3 linked regions of the Homo sapiens genome follow. The protein of the gene in region 1 purifies or fractionates together with the protein of each later gene. This does not show direct contact. Each region holds a gene or a part of one and is shown in the gene's direction. Other genes may lie near its edges.

Region 1 (7,889 bases):
GTTGTTCCTGTAAACCTGCCTCCTTGACTCATGGGCTTGGCCCCTTTACCTTGGAGTCACCACGCCCTTTGGAGTAAAGAAAAAATGAGGATGAAGCAATGAAACATGACATTTTTACATCACCGTAAGCACGTGCTGAGCTCTCAGTGGGTTGGAAGCTGGTGGAGGGATGGCATGGATGAGGCTTGGTGTTAGAAGCTCCCCACTGAAGGCCATGAGTATAGCACATATTCTCCACAAAAAATGGGGCAGCAGCTCCTCAGGTCTACAGAGGTGGGCCTTGAGCGAGTGGGCCAGCTCTTGCAGAGGTGCTAAGTGGTGGTTCAGAATCAGTTCGTACCAAATGGATAGGAACTCGGTGCCAGTGAAGCACGAGGATCCCAATGAACATCAGCTTACTTAATCCTTACAACCACCTAGGGAGGTGGTACATGGAAGGATATCTACCTACAGATGAAGCCTGCAGGACTCCGCGTAATGCAGTGCCGTGCCTGAGGTCACACAGCTAAATACTAGCAGGGCTGGAGCTAGAACTCAGGCCTTCTAACCCACAGCTCAGGGCTCTGTCCACAACTTTGCCCTGCTATAGATCATGGAACAGCTGCCTATATATGCCTGGTACATGGTCCTTCTTGTAGGGATCCTCTTTGGCTTGAAAAATTAACTCAAAGAGCTGGGTATAAACCCATTAGGTTGTAAAGATTTGCAAGGCAGAGAGCATGCCTCATTCATCTTTGTATTTTCAACACCTAGCCTGGGTTTGGTACCTAGCTGTGCTCAATACAGATCTTGAATCGCCAAAACCCATTTTGTAGATAGAAAATTGTGGTGGCCAAGGTGGTAGCTTAAAGGTTTGTTATTGAAATGACTGGAGCTCCAGGCTCTAAGCCATGCTGTCCACACACTCACACTTGGCCATCCTCTCCCTATCTGGAAATCCAGCTCAGTCATCAGGCAGCCAGACCCACTCTGAGGCCTTGGAATCTGGGTCAAGGTTTCTGTCTACACCAACTACCCCAGATATGTTGTCAGTCTGAGGAAAGGAGATCGCTCGATCATTTGATGACTAGGCTCCTTTCCTTGTGAACACCTCTGCTAAGTGTCTATTTTCACTGAGCCTCTTCTAAGAGTAACTGGGGTTAGGGTGTACTTTTTCTTCTGCTGAATTTTTGTGTAAAGCAGTTCTTTCTGCCCTGCACTGCTGTATCCCGGGCCAGTGAAAACCTTTCTTGTGGTTTCAGTGGTGCTATCCTTTCTAGGCCAACTACCTAGGTATGCCATATTCTAAGGGCCTTTGGGTGGCAGGGAGGAAAACCTGTGGGAAGTGAAGTGGAGACTACTCTCTGCGGATGAGCCCTGTGGCCTGCACCACTGCAGGGTGAGGACCTGCCAGGGAACAGCATGACAGCATCCCTGGGACACAGGGCCCAAGCTGGCTGGGCTCCAGATAGACCCACCACACCAGCAGAAGCTTCCAGCCCGCTCCACAGCAAGCAGGGTCATCAACTCCTGATGATTCTCCTAAGTGTGTATCTTGCCACATCATCCACTTTGGCACAATTTGCCTGTCAGGTCCCACATCCTTCTTATTTTCTTTAATCACGTCATCCGCAAACTAGCAAAGAAGATTTGGAAACCAAACCATTTAACTATTTCCCCCCAAACCAGAAAGTACATAGACAACAATGAAACTGTACGAAATGCCCGGGGAAGGCAAATTGCCACCACTTCCCAAATCAGACATTTCCCTGGTGGTCTCCTTATTGGTTTAAAGTGACTTTTCAGAGCAGACATACTCGTTTTTAAAAAGGCAAGCACCAAAAACACCTGTCAAGGTGATTAGTAAATTATAAGCTATTATTATTTTTAAAACACTCTTTGTAATAAACAGAACTCTGGATTATGCACCATTTTGGATTTCCTGTATTTTTTGCTCTCTACCCTTCATAACATAGTCTATAACGCACTGAATTCTTAAGTAATGTAAAGATAGCCTACCATGCACTCCCTTTACCCTTGTCTAAGTCTTTCCAGTAAATACACCTTGTCTTAAAATGGTAAGGTCCTTGAGGGCCATAGCTCCTGAAGTGTTTCTTTATCTTCTACAATGCCCAGCTTAGGGTCTTGCACGATAGTAGGCATTTAATAAGTTTGTTTAATTGAATTTGACTTTTATATGAATTCTTAAAAATTGCATGATGGACTGACATTGTAGGGAAACTGCTCACAAGTCTTTTTCCATTTATAAAAACCACTCAAAACTCCCTCTATGGGAGTGGTCTTCAGGGGCTCTTGAGGTCAGACCCGGATAACTGCCCTTCTATTCAAAGTGAAAGTGGGGCTCTGGCTGGGGGGTCCCTTTATCCCTATGTCTGAGGATGTGCAATGGGTCCCTTTCTTGATGATGACGCTAATGACCCCCACACATTATCTCTCTTGCTTCAGGACTAGAGGCTTGATGGTTCAGAAAATAATGGCAATGGAGGACAGAGAGATGACTGGACCCCAGCCAGGTGGCCCTCCCAACAGTACCCCCCAACATGCACACACCCAAGCAGAGGAGGGCATCTGGGGATGTAAGTCATCCACAAAAAAACAGGATATCTTACCTGTCCGAGAAAGGGGCTCGGAAAGCAGGTGGGAAACAAACAAAAGAAAGACACATTTTACGTAGTGACCAGTCACTTTGAGAGTGTCACCTCCTGCCTGGGCCACCAGCACCAGCATACCTCGGGGGGACACAGCACACAAGACAGGGGACCTGCTACGAGGAGTGGTGTGCACCCTGGAACCGCCAGGCTCCCACAAACTTTTCAGTGACTAAACCAAAACCGGGTCGCATTTTAAAAACTCTACACAGGCACTGAGAGATTCTGCCTCCCATATTTCCCCCCAGTATTTTAAGCTCCCTTTACTTTAAGTCTGAGGTTGCAGTGGGAGAGTCTGAAGTTGGCAGTCGGAGAAATGTGATGGGTCAAGACAGAATGCAATTCCAAGTCCTCGGGGTCCTGTGTGCATCACTCACAAGTATGCTACTGTCCACATGTCAGTCACTGGGTTTTAGCCAGGAAGATGTTCATCCATTCCAGTTTAGAGTCTAAACTAATAACATGGGTAAACCAAGTAGCAGAGAGATTTGCCCAATATCACACAGGTAGCTCATGGCGGAGCAGGGTTAGAAGTCACATAAGCTGATGCCCAGACTCATGAGCTTTCTCTACACCATAATGGACCAAATGAAATTGCTGATACCCCCCAAACTGCCAAAGTATGTGGCTTCAACTTACTTTCCAATACATGCTAATGTTCCAAACCAGGCTATCTGGGAGGAACACGAGGGGAATCATGTTCTCCCATTGTCCTTCGAATGTTTCAGTACCGTGAATAAATACACACAGGAAGACAACTCTGGGCTCTCACGTGCAGAAGCTAACTCACACCTCACTCACACATGCTCGACAGCACTGCAAAACAAGCCCATCACTATTTCCAGAGCGGCCATAGCTCCCCATGCAGCATAAACATACCTGCCATCTAGATCTGCAGCCCTGCTCTGTATCTAGTTGACATGTTGTGATAATCTAGAAAGGGGTGTCTTCAGCTTATCTTCCAAGTGTCACAATCATCTTTCACCTTATTCCACACCTCGTTAGTGCACAAGGTTGTTATAGGACAAGCGAAACGAAGAGGCAACCTTGCCTCTCTGGAGTCCCAGAGTCTCCCCATCAAACTGACTTAAGCAATGAGCAAAATAGTATTGAGTAAGCCACCCATTTGTGCTTTAGTCACTTGCTAAAAAGAGCACCAACCACTGAAAACAATATTTGGCCCCTATTCTTAGGAAATACACATTGAAGTACTTAGGTATAAAAGGACATAGTGTTTATAACTTACCTTCAAATAGTTCACAGAAAAAATTAAGTATATACACATACACATGGGGCAGGGGGCAGGAGGAAGGGGACGGATACAGCAAATGGGGTAAAATGTTAATAGGAAAATCTGGATACAGGGCATAAGGGTGTTCTTTGTATTGATTTTATTTTTTGCAGCTTTTAAGATGGAGTCTCGCTCTGTCACCCAGGCTGCAGTGCAGTGGCGCTATCTCAGCTCACTGCAGCCTCTGTCTCCCAGGTTCAAGCGACTCTCCTGCTTCAGCCTCCCAAGTAGCTGGGATTACAGGCACCCACCACCACGCATGGCTAAATTTTATATTTTGAATAGAGATGGGGTTTCACCATGTTTGTCTAGCTGGTCTTGAACTCCTGACCTCAAATGATCCACCCGCCTTGGCCTCCCAAAGTGCTGGGATTATAGGCCTGAGCCACTGCACCCAGCCTAATTTCTGCAACTTTTACAAATTTGAATTTCCAAAGAAAATGTGAAAAATATATACACCTCAAAAAACAAACTAAAACAAAACAATAAAAATATTTGCTGACAGAGATTAGGCTGATAAAGGAGAAGAAAAGGAAGGAGATTATTCAGACAGGACAGAGGTTTCCAGGGCTGGAGGGCTGGGGGTAGACAGTGTCAACACAGAAAACTGATGATAACAAAGATAAAAGGGGACAAATAGACAGCATCACTACAGTATCTCTACTACATTCTTCTCTCTGGGTATTGTCAATCAGGGCCTGCCACTGGGCAATGGCAAGTCAAATACAATCTTTACACATTTTAATCTTGCTTTCAGTAGACTCCATTCATCTTCCAAAGGGTAACCTAGTTGGTAGTGGAATCATGTGCCTTGTGACATCAACTGTGCTCAGAATGTTTATCCTCTGGACAAACCAGCCAGCCTCTCCAGAGCAGGCGTGTGATCTCTGTACCCCCGCAGTGGTCAGAATATGGAGAACTTCTCACTCCTCAGCATCTCTGGACCTCCAATCTCTTCCTCCGCCCTGAGTGCTTTTCCCGACATTATGTTCTCTCGTGCCACCAGCCTGCCAGGTAAACTTTGGTGCCACTAGGGCCACAAAGATGTGGTTTTTTTTGAAGCTTTTAATTGAGTACCCTACCAGATCATGTTACAGGACCATGATTTAGTGAGAAAGTCAAATTACGCATGGGGAGAAAATAATTTTTCAAAATGCTGCATTTGTGGTAAGTAGTTACTGCTGTGTATTGATTTTTGGTAAGGGAAGAAAGGGGAAAACTTTTTTTTTTTTTTTGAGACAGAGTTTCACTCCTGTCGCTCAGGCTGGAGTGCAATGATGTGATCTCGGCTCACTGCAACCTCTGCCTCCTGGGTTCAAGTGATTCTCCTGCCTCAGTCTCCATTTATCATCAAGTTTTTCCCCCTAGATTGTGCATGAAATCTCAAGGTGGCAGTATGTCTACATAGAGTAGAAACTAGTTTTAGCTCTGTTTTGACAAGTTTGGAGAGGATTTGGAGTTAGCCAAATCAGAGAAGCCTAAGCAGCAGCGTAAACTGATGAGCACATCATGGAATAAAGTTGGACACCCTGAGGACTCCCTGTTCAAAATACGGTCCTTAGACTTGCAACGTCTGCATCGTCTGGGAGCTTGTTAGAAATGCAGAATCTCAGGTTCCCACCCCAGATCCACTGAATCAGCATCTGTGTTATTAACAAGATCCCTAGGGGATCTCTATGCACAGTAAAATGGAGAAGTACTGCTCAGTGGAGTAGGCCTCCTAAGCATCCATTTGTCTACATATATGACATTTATAAATTTGTCCCCCAAACTGAACACAGCTGCTATTCTGGGATTTGAGGCAGGTCAGCTTTTTGTCCAAGTGTTAGCACTCCAGGGTGTGCCGTGCAGTGATGGCCCACGGGAACCCTGACTGTGGGTATGAGATGTTTCAACTGGACAATCCTCAAAGCGGGCATGGAACATTGCTCTGCAGCCTGTGACTCTGGGTCCCAGGATGCTCAGGAGACTGGCAATGCGGAGTGAAGCCATCCGCGTGATGAGATGCAGGAGGGTTAGGTGAGGGGCAGGCCAGGCGGAGAGGTGTCATCTGGGCTACATCATAAATCCCACTTTCCAGAGGATCTTTCTGAGGCCTGAATGAAATGGCCCCATTCAGAATTCCCCAGGATGTCATCCAGAATAGCTCTGCCTGGCTGAGTTTGAGAGGTCACTGTTCTGTTTCAGCGTTGAGATGCCTTGAAGTACAGAGGTTGAGCCCCTAGGTATGCCTGGGGGAGTCCCAGAAAGTGGAATCCCAACCTTGCTCAGCTCACCAGTGTTTCTTCTATAACCCAGACATTGCAAAGACAGCAGTACCCACTGAGGCATCCAGCCCAGCTCAGGCCCTGCCACCCCAGTACCAAAGCATCATTGTCAGGCAAGGGATACAGAACACAGCGCTCTCACCAGGTGAGGACTTCTCTGACTCTGGGCGGGAATGTGTGAGAGGCTAAGGATGAAAAGGGGCTGCTTCCCTAAGGAAGCAGAGGTGTCTGGAAGCTGGACCCCCATGCGCGGTCTTGTCACCTGCAGCCTCCTATCTGGCCCTTCTTCCTTTGGTAGACACCCACAGGCCTGGGGCTCTCGCCTTGCCTCCCCTCTCCTGTCTCTGAAACTGGTGTGCAAGAGCAGTTTCTGGCTGAGTGGGCCGTGGAGGGATCAAGATGAGCAGTGAGGCTGAAAAAAGGGTCACAGCCATGGGTGGCGAAAAGAGGGACTGTGGGAGGCCGCCGGTTTGGCTATCCGCTGGGTCACCTGTCTGTGTCTATCCTTAGAGGAGTCAGTGGACATGGTGTCTCCAGGAGGGGAAGGCCTCGACAAATACCAAGGCTTACCAACTAAAAGCAGCCTCTCCTGCCCCAAGATCCAACGGCCCTTTGTACCCCTAGAAAAAGAATGCAGTGAGAAGGAATGCCCTCGGCTGCTCTTACCACTGTCTTGCGTCTGCTCTCAGAACTGCAATCGTGGTGGGGTGGAGGTAACCGAGGTCATGCCTGATGTTTGCCTTCTTACCTTTCTGCTCCAGCATCCTTGGCTCCACTGCTCCCTGCCAGAGACTCAGACCTGGTCCTTTCCTTTGCAGACTGCAGCTTGGGGGATACCCAGCACGGAGAGAAGCTGAGGCGGAACTGCACTATCTACCGGCCCTGGTTCTCCCCCTACAGCTACTTCGTGTGTGCAGACAAAGAGAGCCAGCTGGAGGCCTATGACTTCCCAGAGGTGCAGCAGGATGAGGGCAAGTGGGACAACTGCCTTTCTGAGGACATGGCTGAGAACATCTGTTCGTCCTCTTCCTCCCCAGAGAACACTTGCCCTCGAGAAGCCACCAAGAAATCCAGGCATGGCCTGGACTCCATCACATCCCAGGACATCCTAATGGCTTCCAGGTGGCACCCAGCACAGCAGAATGGCTACAAGTGCGTGGCCTGCTGCCGCATGTACCCCACCCTGGACTTCCTCAAGAGCCACATCAAGAGGGGCTTCAGGGAGGGCTTCAGCTGCAAGGTGTACTACCGCAAGCTCAAAGCCCTCTGGAGCAAGGAGCAGAAGGCCCGGCTGGGAGACAGGCTCTCCTCCGGCAGCTGCCAGGCCTTCAATAGTCCTGCTGAACACCTTAGGCAAATTGGCGGTGAAGCCTACTTATGTCTCTAGAGAGATGCCAATAAAGTTAGTCACAGCCTTCTGTCCAGTCTGAGGTCACCCCGCACAGCCTGCTGTCCTTCCCAGAACCCGGCTCTCATCACCTTTGGCTAATGGTTGCCTAGCAACACCAGGCACACACCCTCCCCTTTCTCTCTTTTAAAAATAAAGACAATACTTGAAGTTTGGGAAAATCATCTAAGATAGAGGTTCTCAAAGGTGCCCAGCTGGCAGTACCAGCAACCCCTGGGAACTCTCAGGCCCTCCTCAGACCTACTGAATCAGAAACTATGGGTCTGGGGCTGGCG
Region 2 (7,000 bases), on another chromosome or scaffold:
CTGCACTACTACGCCTGGCTAATTTTTGTATTTTTAGTAGAGCTGAGGTTTTGCCGTGTTGGCCAGGCTGGTCTCCACCTCCTGACCTCAGGTGATCCACCTGCCTCAGCCTCCCAAAGTGCTGGGATTATAGGCGTGAGCCACCGGGCCCAGCCTGTTAGCCCCTTTTTCTATTCCAGTTTGTATTTTTCATGTCTTGAATTAAGGACTGGGTTGCATAGTCTTTACATGGAAACAACTCAAATAAAACTGTCCTTAAAAAGAGTTCCAGCCAGGCGTGGTGGCTCACGCCTGTAATCCAAGCACTTTGGGAGGCCAAGGCAGGCAGGTTACTTTAAGTCAGGAGTTCAACACCAGCCTGGCCAACGTGGTGAAACCTCGTCTCTACTAAAAATACAAAAATTAGCTGAGCATGGTGGCACGTGCCTGTAATCCCAGCTACTCGGGAGGCTGAAGCAGGAGAATAGCTTGAACCCGGGAGTCGGAGGTTGCAGTAAGCTGAGATGGCGCCACTGCACTCCAGCCTGGTGACAGAGCGAGACGCCATCTCAAAAAAACACAAAAAAACACAACAAAAAAAAAAACAAAGTTCCAATGCTGATTTACAGTTTTAATGGAGAATTGAGTGATAAAATGTGCTATTGGTTGTAAATGAGCAAGTAAATCATTTGGAAGAAAGTTGCAAATTTATCTTATGAGGTGAAGATTAAATCTGAGATGATATAGATTTGAAGTTTTTAAATCATTCTTGCCTTTAAAAAAAAAACCTACTATGTGGGAAAATAAGGCCCCTCACCCCTGATTTGCTTTCCATTACTATAGTTTTTCCTAGAATTTCATATAAATGGAATCATACGATATGAGGTCATTTGTGTCTGGCACTTTTCACTTAACATAATGTTTTTGAGATTCATCTATGTTGGGAGATTTTATAAATTTCACAAATCAGGTTAAATTTAATGTATTTGAAATCAGTTTCAAAAAGCATTAAGCATTGTCATTTTTCAGTGCTAAACCCAAGTACAGTACATGTCCTTTTATCTGGTAGCTTTTATTTAAGACCTGATACAGACCCATAAGGGCAATGAGTAATGTACTGAATAAGCACATGAATAAATTAACTTCTGAGCAGAATTATAGTAATAGGTGCCTATTATAAGGTGGTGAGTGCAGAGAGAGTTATGGTAGTTATAAGCTGTCTGTGGGTGAGGCTAAACAGATTAACCTGACTTTCAAGTTAAGGCTTCCTGAGAGATGGGATTTCAGGATCTGGCTCTAAGGAAGAAAGCTTGGTGAACTGGTTTGGTAAGGCATCCAAGAATAGAGTGTGGCTTCTGGGTGTAGTCTCTAAAGGAGAACACAGTAATTGGATGAGAGTGTGGAAAGGGTAAATTTGCTTTAGGAGTGGTAGGGTCAGGTACATGGAAACAAAAGTGGTTCATTGGTTTTAAAGTGAAATGTAAAAAAAAAACTGTTTCCACTGAAGCAAAAAGGATAAAGATTTATGTAAACATTCTTTATTTGGGTAGCAGCATCTTCCCATCCCCCTCAGTTTGTTCCCCACTATTTCTGTATCACCTATACATGGTACATACTTAATAAATATTTACTCGGAAAGTATTGAATTAAGTTGACTATTTAGTGTTAGCTAGATAAAAGTTATGTGTTATCTATTGTTTTAGAAGTATTGTCACTAATTTAAAAAATTTAGATTTTGCTGCCTTTATCCTTCATATACAAATTTGTTCAATCCCTTCCCTATGTTTTCTGTTACAAAATTCCCTATAGGATTTGCTTTTTTTTTTTTTGACATGGAGTCTCACTCTGTTACCAGGCTGGAGTGCAGTGGTACAGTCTTGGCTCACTGCAGCCTCCACCTCCTGGGTTCAAGCAATTCTCCTGCCTTAGCCTCCTGAGTAGCTGGGACTACAGGCACGTGCTGCCACGCCCAGCTAATTTTTGTATTTTTAATAGAGATGGGGCTTTACCATTTTGGCCAGGATGGTCTCCATCTCTTGACCTCGTGATCTGCTCGCCTCGGCCTCTCAAAGTGCTTGGATTACAGGCATGAGCCACCGCACCCAGCCAGGATTTTCTTTAAGATACTTTGGTATATCTTACAACAGAGACTGAAAATTACCTGGCCTGCGTAGATGACCTGCTGAATCAGGTCCTTCCTGTGTAATTTGAGAGACCTATTGTTAAGAAGCATAGCATCCTGAGTAAAGAGCAAGGATAAGCCGGGCGCCATGGCTCACGCCTGTAATCCCAGCACTTTGGGAGGCCGAGGTGGGCAGATTGCCTGAGCCCAGGAGTTGGAGACCAGCCTGGGTAGTAGAGACAGGTGAAACCCTGTCTCTACTAAAATACAAAAAAAAAAAAAATTAGCCTGGTGTGGTGGCGTGCGCCTGTAGTGCCAGCTACTCAGGAGGCTGAGGCAGGAGAATTGCTTGAACATGGGAGGCGGAGGTTGCAGTGAGCCAAGATCGTGCCACTGCACTCCAGCCTGGGCGACAGAATGAGGCTCCGTATCAAAAAAAAAAAAGCAAGGATAAGAGAATGGCATCCATTTTCTTGATATTTTAAGAAATGAAGCTTCCGGTTCTAGGCACTTGGAGAGCCGCGGCTTAAGGTACAGACATGGCCAAGTCCACGAACCACACCACACACAACCAGTCCTGAAAATGGCACAGAAATGGTGGGCTCCAGGTTCCTGAGGAACATGCACTTTGCCAAGAAGCACAAGAAGGGCCTAAAGAAGATGCAGGCCAACAATGCCAAGGCAATGAGTGCACTTGCTGAGGCTAGCAGGGCCCTCGTAAAGCCCAAGGAGGTTAAGCCCAAGATCCCAAAGGGTGTCAGCTGCGAACTCGATTGACTTGCCTACATTGTCCACCCCAAGCTTGGGAAGTGTGCTTGTGTCCGCATTGCCAAGGGGCTCAGACTGTGTGGGCCAAAGGCCAAGGATCAACCAAGGCCCAGGCTGCAGCTCCAGCTTCAGTTCCAGCTCAGGCTCCTCCCAAAGGCTCTCAGGCCCCTACAAAGGCTTCGGAGTAGGTATCTCTGTCTGCCAACGTGAGGACAGAAGGACTGATGCAACCCCCCTGGGCTGCCGTCTTTATGGGGCTGGGGTCCTCCTGTGCTATTAGTACAAATAAACCTGAGGCAGGGGAAAAAAAAAGAAAGAAAATTCTTGGACCTTGTCAATTAATATGTGAGAGCTCACTTAAAATTACAGTTGACCCTTGAACAGTGCTGGGGTTAGGGGCACTGAACCCCAGCCCACTCCCACTGTGCCCCACAGTCAGGAATCCAAGTGTAACTTTTTTTTTTTTTTTGAGATGGAGTCTTGCTCTGTCACCCAGGCTGGAGTGCAATGGTGTGATCTTGGCTCACTGCAACCTCTGCCTCCCAGGTTCATGGGATTACAGGCGCGCCGCCACACCCAGCTAATTTTTGTATTTTTAGTAGAGACGGGGTTTCACAGTGATGGCCAGGCTAGTCTCAAACTCCTGACCTCAGATGATCCACCCACCTCGGCCCGCCAAAGTGCTGGGATTACAGGCATGGACCACTGCACCTGGCCCCAAGTATAACTTGACTCCCCAAAAGCTTAACTACTACTAGCCTACTGTTCACTGGAAGCTTCACCAATAACATGATTGGTCAATAACTATATATATATATATATATATATATATAAAGCTCTTTACCCTCATCATCCTCACTTTGGGCTGAGGAGGAAGAAGAGGGGTTGATCTTGTTTGGGTAGCAGAGGCAGAAAAAAACCTGTGTACAAGTGGACCTGTGCATTTCAAGCCCCTTTTGTTCAAGGGTCAGCTGTATTGAGTTTCTGTTAAAACCTTTTTTTGTGTGTTCCATTCTAAATTGAATTAAGTTCTCCAAAGGAACAATTTAAAAATTTTTTTAAATTTTTTTTATATAGATGGGCTCTTGCTATATTGCCCAGACTGGTCTTGCATTCCTGAGCTCAAGTACTTCTCCTGCCTCAGCCTCCCAAAGCGCTGGGATTATAGGCATCAGCCACCGTGCAATGACCCAAGAAACAACTATGACATACCGAAAAATTCTTTATCTAGATAGGTTTTGGAGGTTTGAGCTGTAGATCTGCCATGTGATATTGACTGGGTCATCTACAGTCAGTCAGTTCCTTAATGTGTGTAAGCCCATCTGTTTCCTCATTTAGAACATAAAAAAAGGATTGTTCTAATGGGAAGGAGAGTGCTGAATAGAAAGATTTAGGGCTGCCTACCCTTCTTTTGCCAGCTAAATACTCATTTCCATTTGCCTTTGCATACTGAGCTTTTGGGTAGGGTTTTGTTTGAACAAGGGTTCCCTACTTAAAAGTGTCACTGGCCTCATTGATCCTAAGGACTTTTAGTCCTGGAATTTTAAGACCTATTTTCAAAGGATAGTAGCTAGAAAAAAAGCATTCCAGCAGTTTGATATTGTGTCTACTACTTGCCTTCCTTTCTTGTTTTTCCTATTTTTCTTTCATCTTTTATTATTTTTATTTTTAGCGGCAGGTTCTTGCTCTGTCACCCGGGCGGAGTGCAGTGGCTATTCAGAAGTATGATAATAGCACACTACAGCCTCAAACTCCTGGACTCAAATGATCCTCCTGCCTCTTAGCCTCCTGAGTAGCTAGGACTGCAGATGAATACCACCTCTCCCAGCTGCCTAGTGTGTTTTAATCACTATTTTTGCCCTCTGTGTCTGAAGGTCAAATGTTTTAGAACGTATTTATAAAGCACTAGTTAATCCTTACTCTTCACTTTTAAAAGCAGCTTAATCTTATCTTTGGCACTGAGCATATATCCTGTGAATAACATAATGGCTGTTATCAGAGAATAAAGATGACGCTGCATTGGATATGTCTTCATTAAGATATATTACAGTGTCCATGCTTAGCTTGGACTAAAAAAAAAAAACCAGAAAAACGTACGTCACAGATCACGAGAAATGTGCTTTTTAACTTGAAGGGAAACTGAATTCATGGTATACTAGAGCTGCTTTATACTGGCTTATGAGATAATGTAATAATGCTAGGTAGCATTTTAAGCTGGACAAAATGTTAGAGATGTATATAGCCCTATTCCTACTAATACAAATTAGACTGTTGAATCTCAGGGGAGTTACTGGAGTGTCCTAACTTCCAGTTCTTCTGAGAATCATTATCACCCTTATGTCAAGGTCAAATCATGCCCTCTCACACACTCCACATCGTTTCATTTGATACTGGAGAGCCATCCTGTACTTCTTCACTTGTTGGCATTTTGCCTCATAGACAAGCTGAAGAGCTCTTACATAAATATAAGTAACCTATTTGTATTTAATTAGATGCTTACGATTCAGGGTGTTCTTATTCTCCCTTTTGAATCTGTGGATTGCAGGATAAAAACTTGCTGGAAATTATTAATTTGTGGCCAGGCGCAGTGGTTCACACCTGTAATCCCAGCACTTTGGGAGGCCAAGACGGGCGGATCACCTGAGGTCAGGAGTTCGAAACCAGGCTGGCCAACATGGTGAAACCCCATCTCTACTGAAATACAAAAATTAGCCAAGCATGGTGGTGTGTGCCTGTAGTCCCAGCTACTTGGGAGGCTGAGTCAGGAGAATTGCTTGAGCCCGGGAGGCAGAGGTTGCAGTGAGCTGAGATCATGCCACTGCACTCCAGCCTGGGTGACAGAGCGAGCCTCTGTCTCAAAAAAAAAAAAAAAAAAAAATATATATATATATATATATACATATATATATATATATATATATATATATATACATATATATATATATATATATATATATATATATATATATATATATATAAATTTGTATCTCATTTCGGAGTAAATGCTTGAACCCATGTAAAGTATGTGGGTTATTCCTTGGCTTTAGTCAGTGGTCCCCAGCCTTTTTGGCACCAGGGACAGGTTTCGTGGAAGACAGTTTTTCCACAGACTGGAGCAAGTAGGGGGTGGGGTGGGGGTGGGAATGATTTTGAGATGATTCAAGTGCATTACATTTATTGTGCACTTTATTTCTATTATTATTACATTGTAACATATAATGAAATAATTATACAACTCACCTTGATGTAGAATCAATGGGAGCCCTGGGCTTGCTTTCCTGCAACTACCTGCTTCCATCTGGGGGTCATGGGAGACAGTAACAGATCGTCAGGCATTAGATTCTCATAAGGAATGCACAACCTAGATCCCTCTGATGTGCAGTTCACAGCAGGGTTTGCGTTCCTATGAGAATCTAATTCTGTTGATCTGACAGGAGGCTGAGCTCAGGCGGTAATGCCAGCTTTGGGGAGTGGCTGTAAATACAGATGAAGCTTCACTTCGCTTCTATACTGGATACCGGTCAGTGGCCCAGGGATCAAGGATCCTTGGCTTTAGTCATTTCTGGACCTAGATCTTTTTTTTTTTTTTTTTTTTTTTTTGAGATGCAGTCTTTCTCTGTTGCCCAGGCTGGGATGCAATGGCGTGATCTTGACTCACTGCAACCTCCACTTCCCAGGTTCAAGTGATTCTCCTGCCTCAGCCTCCTGAGTAGCTAGGACTACAGGCATATACCACCATGCCTGGCTAATTTTTTTTAGTAGAGATGAGGTTTCACCATATTGGTCAGGCTGGTCTCGAACTCCTGACCTCAAGTGATCCACCTGCCTCGGCCTCCCAAAGTGCTGGGATTACAGGCGTGAGCCACCGCACCTGGCTAGATCATTTTGTTTTAAAGTATATTTAAGCTGTACCTAAAATATCATTAAGTCTTGGTTTTCTCATGATCTGTCACTGTTCACCAGGGATTTTTGCTGTCAAGAATGAGTGTCTTCATAACTTTCATCATTTAACTTGGTGTTCAGTGTATGCACACAGGTAAAATGATGCTTTATTGTGTTACTGTTTTTGTTTCTAATTTCAATCTCAGATGGCTCTTAAAATTTTGGTTGACTGGCCGGGTGTGGTAGCTC
Region 3 (7,000 bases), on another chromosome or scaffold:
CAGAGCGAGACTCCGTCTCAAAAAAAAGCCTCTTCCCCGAAACTATGTGTATATACATTGCAGCATCTTTGATGGCAAACTATATATTTTTAAAAGTTGCATATTTTAAATACAATTAATTGATCTAAGTATAATTGTAATCAATATTTTCGACTGAGTCTTTTCTCTGTGCAAAGAAATTTAAATTCATCAGAGTCCCTCTCAAAGTGTTCTGTTATGCATCTCTTTATGAGCTCATTTGCATACATTATCTCATTTAATTTCCTTAACAACCTTGTGAACTAAGCAGGGCAGATATTATCATTGACTGAATGAGAAAATTGGGGTCCAGGGAAGTCCCTGACTTGTCCACTCTCAGATGGTTGATGGGTGGACCTCTTGTTGCCTATGTATTCCTTCTGTGCTCTTTGCATATAGTGAATCTTGTTTCTGGGAGTCACTAAATAGTAATAGATAAATAATCCATTGAAACCCTCCCTGTTTCTGACAATAAAACCTTATGAGCAGGAGAAAGGGAACTGCTCTCTATAGCAAGGATACACGTACTCACATCACCCACTTAGCTGTCAGTTTGAAGAAGGGTGGCCAGGACGCAGCCCTGCTCCTCCCTAGGAAGGGTTGAGGGACCCTTCCTAGTAGCACCCCGATCAGAGTGAGCTGCCTTTGCTGTATAGGAATATGACCTCATATTCTTTTTCCTATAAGATCCTCGCAGTGAAGAATAACTTTCTCTCTGTAACGTTTGCTTCTTATGTTTAACAAATATACATGTTAGTTGATGTCATGTTAAAATATCATATTTAACAAATATTCATAATGCAATCTAATATAGATTAAATAGATAGTTTTATAAATTATTCTTATTATCTTTGAAAAATGGCTCCACAAGCACTTTTTCCATGTATTGTTTATGCTCAGATATGTCATGCATCTGACTGAAATTCCTGCAGAAGTGTAGACAGTGAAATGGTTACTGTGGACTAGAATAGCCAAGATACTTGATAGAAGAGGGAAGATATTTTATGACCTTTAAATCCAATTCATACAGCTTATTGAGCAGTGCCTACCATGTGCTCTATGCCTGGCTTGGACAGTGAAGAACAGGAGGAACTTTCTGGGAAGAAACATCAGGGGTAAATGTCTTGAATTGGAAAGAGTAAAACGTATGTATCATTGGTAGCATGGTAATATGGATGAAGACTTGCAAAATAAGGGAACTCCTGTTTGAGAATAAATGGATCACAGGTTTGATGGATGGGATGGGAGGTATGGAAGGACCAGTCACCAGATCTGTTTTCTTGGAATTTTGACCAATCCAGTTTCACGAATCAGATTCTTGTGATCTTAGAAGTGTTATACTAATGATATATTCTTGCAAATCTTTAGCATTTAATTTAAAGAGAAACTTTACTTGCATCACATTTTTGTTATGATGCCTCTTAGCAAGATATTAAGGTTATTATTCCAGAGGATATTGCGTATGGAAATTTCTTCACAGATGTACTGACCCCGCCCCCTACAAAGTCAGAGGAGTGTCTGTCTTCAAAGATCTGACATTTAAGCATTATCCTCTTATAAAATACTAATAATCAAATATCCCTTAGCTTTTAACATTAGAAATCAGGAGAGTACTCTCTTAACAGATTGAAAAGCATTTGCCTTTTGGTCTTTGTTTTGATTTTCCTGGGAAACTCAAAACAACTCTTGCCAAAGTCCCCAGTGATTTCAGTGTGGCTGAAGCCCATGGATATTTTTCAGTCCTCATCTTCCTTGGCCTCTCATGGACTTTAGACATGTTGATCTGTTTCTCCTCCTTCAAACAGTGTCTCCCCTTGGCTTTCCCACTTCCTTCCACTCTCTAGCAGCTGACCAGAATGCTGTCATAGACCCTCTCCTCTTCTCACTACACTTCCTTTCAGATAATCTCCTTGTGTGTGGCCTGCCTACCACGTGTATACACCTGAGTCACAATATTGTATCTCCATCTCAACTCTGTCCTGGGAGCTCCAGACTCTTACCTGTGGTTTGTTTGCAAGGCCCTCTGTGGCCTGCCCCAGGCTCATGTTCCTACTGGACCTCCTCATACACTTTGCCCTAGCCACCCTGGAATTCTTTCTGGGCCTCAGATGTGCTGTTTCCTCCACCGTGAGCCTTGTTTTCTCCATCCATAGCCGGCTGCCTCTCATCTTCCAGGGCTCACATTGAATGCCACGGCTTCAGAGAGCCTGTGCTGATTCTCCCTCTCCACGAGCCCCTCTACCCATTCACAATACATGTTCATTAAATAAGCAAAAACCAACAAAAATAACAGCAAAACCTGCCCTAAATCACCTTCCTTCTCATCACCTCTCAATGAGAATCAAAGTCAAGGACAGTTTACTGAGTAATGCTGGCAATAATGGACATTGTAGTAAATCATGCATATGATGAAGCCAAAATCCACAGTTTAAAGTAGAGTGGAACGGATGAGAAAACAACCCAAAACCCTGATTATGTTATTTCTGATCGCTAGTTGGTGGACCTTGCTTTAAAACACCTCCATCCCATTCACTTTTTGTCAGAGAACCCTATTTGCTTCCTTCATAGTAATGGTCACAGACTATCTTATCTTTGTTCTTTGGCTTTGTCCTCTAAATCCCCAGCATCTAGCATATGTTCAGCTCTTGGTGGACATACATACAGAGCCTCAGCACTTGCTGTTCCCTCTGCCAGGAATGCCCTTCTCCCGGACACCCTCCCAGCGGGCTGCTTTGTTCCTTCCTGCAAGTCATCACCCAAATGGCACCATCACTCAAATTCTTCCCTCACTTCCCTGTCTCTGGGCCCTCTCCAGCCCATGCCCTGCTGTATTTTTCTCCTTGCCCTGTTCTTGTCACTGCTTAACATGTTACCAGCGCAGTAGAGTTACCCATAGTATGTAATGTTATTTTCCTTTATGTCTTTTTTGCTTAACTTATTTAGTTGAATCCTTTTAAGCTAAATATACTTACAATGTAATTTCACTGACCTTCAAATCGACTTCTATATTGTGAGTGGCAAAGAATAAAGGCATGTCTGCCACCGTCATGTAATATGTCCTATTTGAGTATCTTTTAGAAAATTAACAGCTCTATTTATGGCAATTGATTTTAATATCCTTCTATGTGGGAGAAATACATTTAGAATTAAAATTAACTTAGCTAAATTATTGTTTTTTATTGGGCTCTAAATATACATGTGTAAGGCCTATCACACGCTTTCAAAGATATATTTCATGAAAAACCATTACTTCATGTTGGGGAAAGGCATGCACTAAAAAAATCAAGTGTCATCAACCAGAAATAACTGGATATTCATGTATTAGAGATTTTCTAAGATATAGTTTGTGTGTTCATTCGCTTGTCTCCCCAATTTTTAAAACAGCCTATAAGGTAGATACTATTATGAAATCCATTTCACAGTTGAGGAAAGAGAGAGACAGAGATGTTCAATAACTCACCTAAGGTCACACAGGTATTAAGTGGTCGATCCAGGAAACAGAGGCCTCTCAATAAATATATGTTGAGGTAAACTTGTCACCACATTCTATCACTTACTTGACTTCCCCTTTGGCAAGTCTCACGGGTGCCTCAAACACAAGTTCCAGACAGAGTTGATGATCTTCTATTTTACTCCTCTTCTGGGTCTTCTCCCACCACCCTCTGATTATGCAAGCCAGAAACCCAGGAGGCATCCTTGACTTCACCCCTTCCCTCACTAGCCACATCTAACCTGTCACTTGGTCCCGTCCTTCATTTCTCTAGAATTCCTCCATGGTTCTCCATCCTCAACCTCGTTTGGGCTGCCACCATTGCCCTCTCGAACTACTGCAGTAGTCTCCAAACTGATCTTGTGTCTGCTTTGAACTTCTCCAGTCCATTCTCCAGCTGGCAGCCAGAATCATCTTTTTCAAAACACAGTTCAACTCTGTCCCACTCTGCTTAAACTCCCTCAGTAGCTTCCCATTGAGTTTCAGATAAAGCCCAAACTCCTATCCATTCTTCCCAGGTGTGATGGGGCACCCCGTGCCCTCCAGCCTCCTCATTCCCACTTTTCTCACTATGTTGGCTTTCGTTTAGGTCTCTGAACCCTCCAGGCTCCCTCTGGCCACAGACTTGCCACCTGGCTAGCTCCCTCTGCCTACCCCTAGCCTCTGAGAGCCTTTCTGCCTCCTCTGATGAGGCCCAATCCCCTAGTAAATGATTTTATTTACACAGTAGACAATAGAGGCTAGATGCATATTTTTTTTCTTAAAATATTGGACTACTTTTATTTTCTTACATAATAATGATATTTATTTAAAGTGCTTTAGGATAGTTCCTGGATATCATTATGTACAGATTAAAGTTTAAAAATTAAACTTCTGAACCATGAGATAGATTGGTTCCCATTCAAGTAATCCATTCACATTTTACCTACTGTAATGACTGGAATGTGCTGTAACATACTTTGCACCCCTGGCCTCCCTTCCTGTCTCCTATAATAATGGAGCTGTGTTTTCAAGTTTGGCAGGATGGCTTCTGTTGGAAATTTGCCCTTTTAAGTTAGGAAGACTGACCCCCATCTTACTGCTCTCTTTCGAAGCTAGTCTAATGGAACAAGTAGACTCAGGACAACTTGGACTAAATGCACTGTAAACCACAATGGAAAAACTGCAGTGAGGTATTCCCAGTAGAAATCTTGGAATTCCTTCAAGTATATTGAGATTTTGTTAGAAATTGAATTGCCAGTGTAATCCATCTTCCTTTTGAGAAAACATTCAGATAAAGAGCTGAGGCCTAGCAGCATTAACTGTTAGAACATCCCTTAAATCAATAAGCTACAAATCTGGCCGCACATTCCTGCCGCGCCTGGTGGTGTGCTCAAGTGGCTTTAGGCTGAAGCAGCATGACTGATAGCACATCCTCAACCAGGCACATGCCTGGCGATGCAGATTCCTGTGTTTACCGTAAGCATTGCCTTGTTCCATTCTACAGAATGCAATTATATTTTGTTTCACATAAGAAAAGCAGTTTTTCTTTTTTTTTTCTTTTTTTTTTTCTTTTTTTCAGATTTTCCAAATGTGGTTATTGAAGGAGTCCTCCATGGGATATTTTACCCTCATCTACAGCCCAGGTAGAAATCCTACATGGCTAAAAGAAGCAGAAGCAAGTTTCGAAGTCACAGTCAAGGAAATCAATACCTACCAATTTAACCTAAACGCTATGATATATAACAGCTCTAGCTAGTGGTAAAGTGCACAGTCCCAGCTTAATTCAGGGCAGGGACATTTCCATTAGAATGGTGCTCTTAAAAATAGAAACTGAACCGGGGCGGTGGTCAGGCTAAGGCCAAGTGTTTAAGAAGTAGAGTGTAGCTGCCAGCGTAGAAACCCATGAAAAGGAGGCCACAGGAGATTCCTGGGAGCACTGGGTGTAGCAAAACAAAGCCACTCTCTGCTTCAGTCGCACCATTTGCTAATTGAAAATCATATCCTGAATCATACTGAGACTGATCAACTTTGGTAGCTTTTTTGTTCAGATCTTATGACACACTACTCTTCTCACCGTGAGATTTTCTCAGCCAGTGATAGTACATTCTGAAATGCTGGCACCAGGAGACGGCCACAGACACACACTGCTAAATGTGAAGATGGAACTAAACTGGAAATTAAATTATACTGACAATATTATGGCATTTTTAAGATCATGGCATTTTAATTTACATTAGAGTGGAGTTGCATCATACTCAGGGGTTAGCTTCCAAGGTCAGTACATAGGTAAAATGGGCTATTAGGATGATCCTTGAAAGCCCTTTAGAAGGGTGCCATGTTGGAAACCTGTACATCCACAACAAGTAGCTTTTCCTCCTATGTTGGAAAAAAAGACTGTTTCTTTGTTTGAAGACCAAGTGAAGTTGTTGGTGTTTGTTTAGGGGCCATTTTGTTAAAAAAAAAAAAAAAAAAGCACATAACTTTTAACACTAGAATCAGCCCGCAAGATGCTTGCCCCGCTAGTGGCAGATGTGAACTGACAAGGAGTGAAGCGCCCACCCAGCGGATGGACAGCACCCACCTGGGTTTACTCAAGGGTGTGCATTCATTTTAGGTGGGATCGCCACAGGATTTCATGTTATTTTCCTTACGGCTTCCTTTTCACTGACCTCATTTGTTGAGTTAATGTAAGTTAAATGTGTTTATGATATAACTCCACTGTACATCATCCTTTGAGTAGTAAAGGATAAAAGCATATATACTACCTATATGTATGTGCTGTATGTGGGCATTTCATTGAGATCTAATTAATAGCTAGCCTATTTATGGTTATTCGTTTTAGTAAGTTCTGTGGGAGCAAGGTATTTAAAATCAAAACTAATAACTACATCATGGTTTTTGATTAGGATCTAAATATTCAGGTTTTAAGCCTGCTGCAAACTTTTAAAATATTATGATAGATTCTGTACTACATGTGGGAAACAAGCAAGAACTAAATAATCAAATGTTGTCAACCAAAAGTAATAGTTGGGTATTGGAGATTTTTTTAAAATGTTTTTATGTTATTAGCTATTTGGAGTTAAATAAAAACAGAACAAGGAAACATTTGAGTTTGTCTTCTCCTAAGATTTCACTGGAAACATGGTTTGTATCTGTCTGTTTACACACACACACACATATGTGCACACACAAAACCTCTCACACATTCACATAGATGTTTATTTCTAATATGATAAGATAAATTATTATAATAAATTATCTCATCTATTAAGTCAGTAGATGTTCATTAAATATTTGATGATTTACCAAGATAATAAGAATTTTTTTGAAAAAACCAAGTATCTATAGTGGTACACTGCCCAAGAAATCTTTTCTGAGAATTAAGTTTTTTCTTAGTGATGACTTTCGCTTTTTATATTTATGTAAATTTTATTTCCCATGTCAAACAAGTCATATGCAGACATCATAAGATTTGCAGGAGGCACACCTCACAAGAGTGGGAAAACCCAG

The links. Proteins that work in one complex are often made in the same cells at the same time.
Region 2: the proteins of SPATA46 (region 1) and CSNK1A1 purify together in Homo sapiens (affinity purification with mass spectrometry; 3 studies listed by BioGRID and IntAct, with this or other methods). This does not show direct contact.
Region 3: the proteins of SPATA46 (region 1) and SNX24 purify together in Homo sapiens (affinity purification with mass spectrometry; 3 studies listed by BioGRID and IntAct, with this or other methods). This does not show direct contact.

What each region holds. Positions count from the first base shown.
Region 1 is NC_000001.11:162,373,752-162,381,640, reverse strand, and holds the start of SPATA46 (spermatogenesis-associated protein 46), read left to right. Parts: upstream 1-4,786; 5' UTR 4,787-4,850; coding exon 4,851-4,953; intron 4,954-6,237; coding exon 6,238-6,351; intron 6,352-7,024; coding exon 7,025-7,593; 3' UTR 7,594-7,889. UniProt on the Homo sapiens protein: Plays a role in spermiogenesis and fertilization.
Region 2 is NC_000005.10:149,541,440-149,548,439, reverse strand, and holds part of CSNK1A1 (casein kinase I isoform alpha), read left to right. Parts: intron 1-2,595; exon of another isoform or gene 2,596-3,170; intron 3,171-7,000.
Region 3 is NC_000005.10:123,002,613-123,009,612, forward strand, and holds the end of SNX24 (sorting nexin-24), read left to right. Parts: intron 1-5,069; coding exon 5,070-5,137; 3' UTR 5,138-6,593; downstream 6,594-7,000. UniProt on the Homo sapiens protein: May be involved in several stages of intracellular trafficking.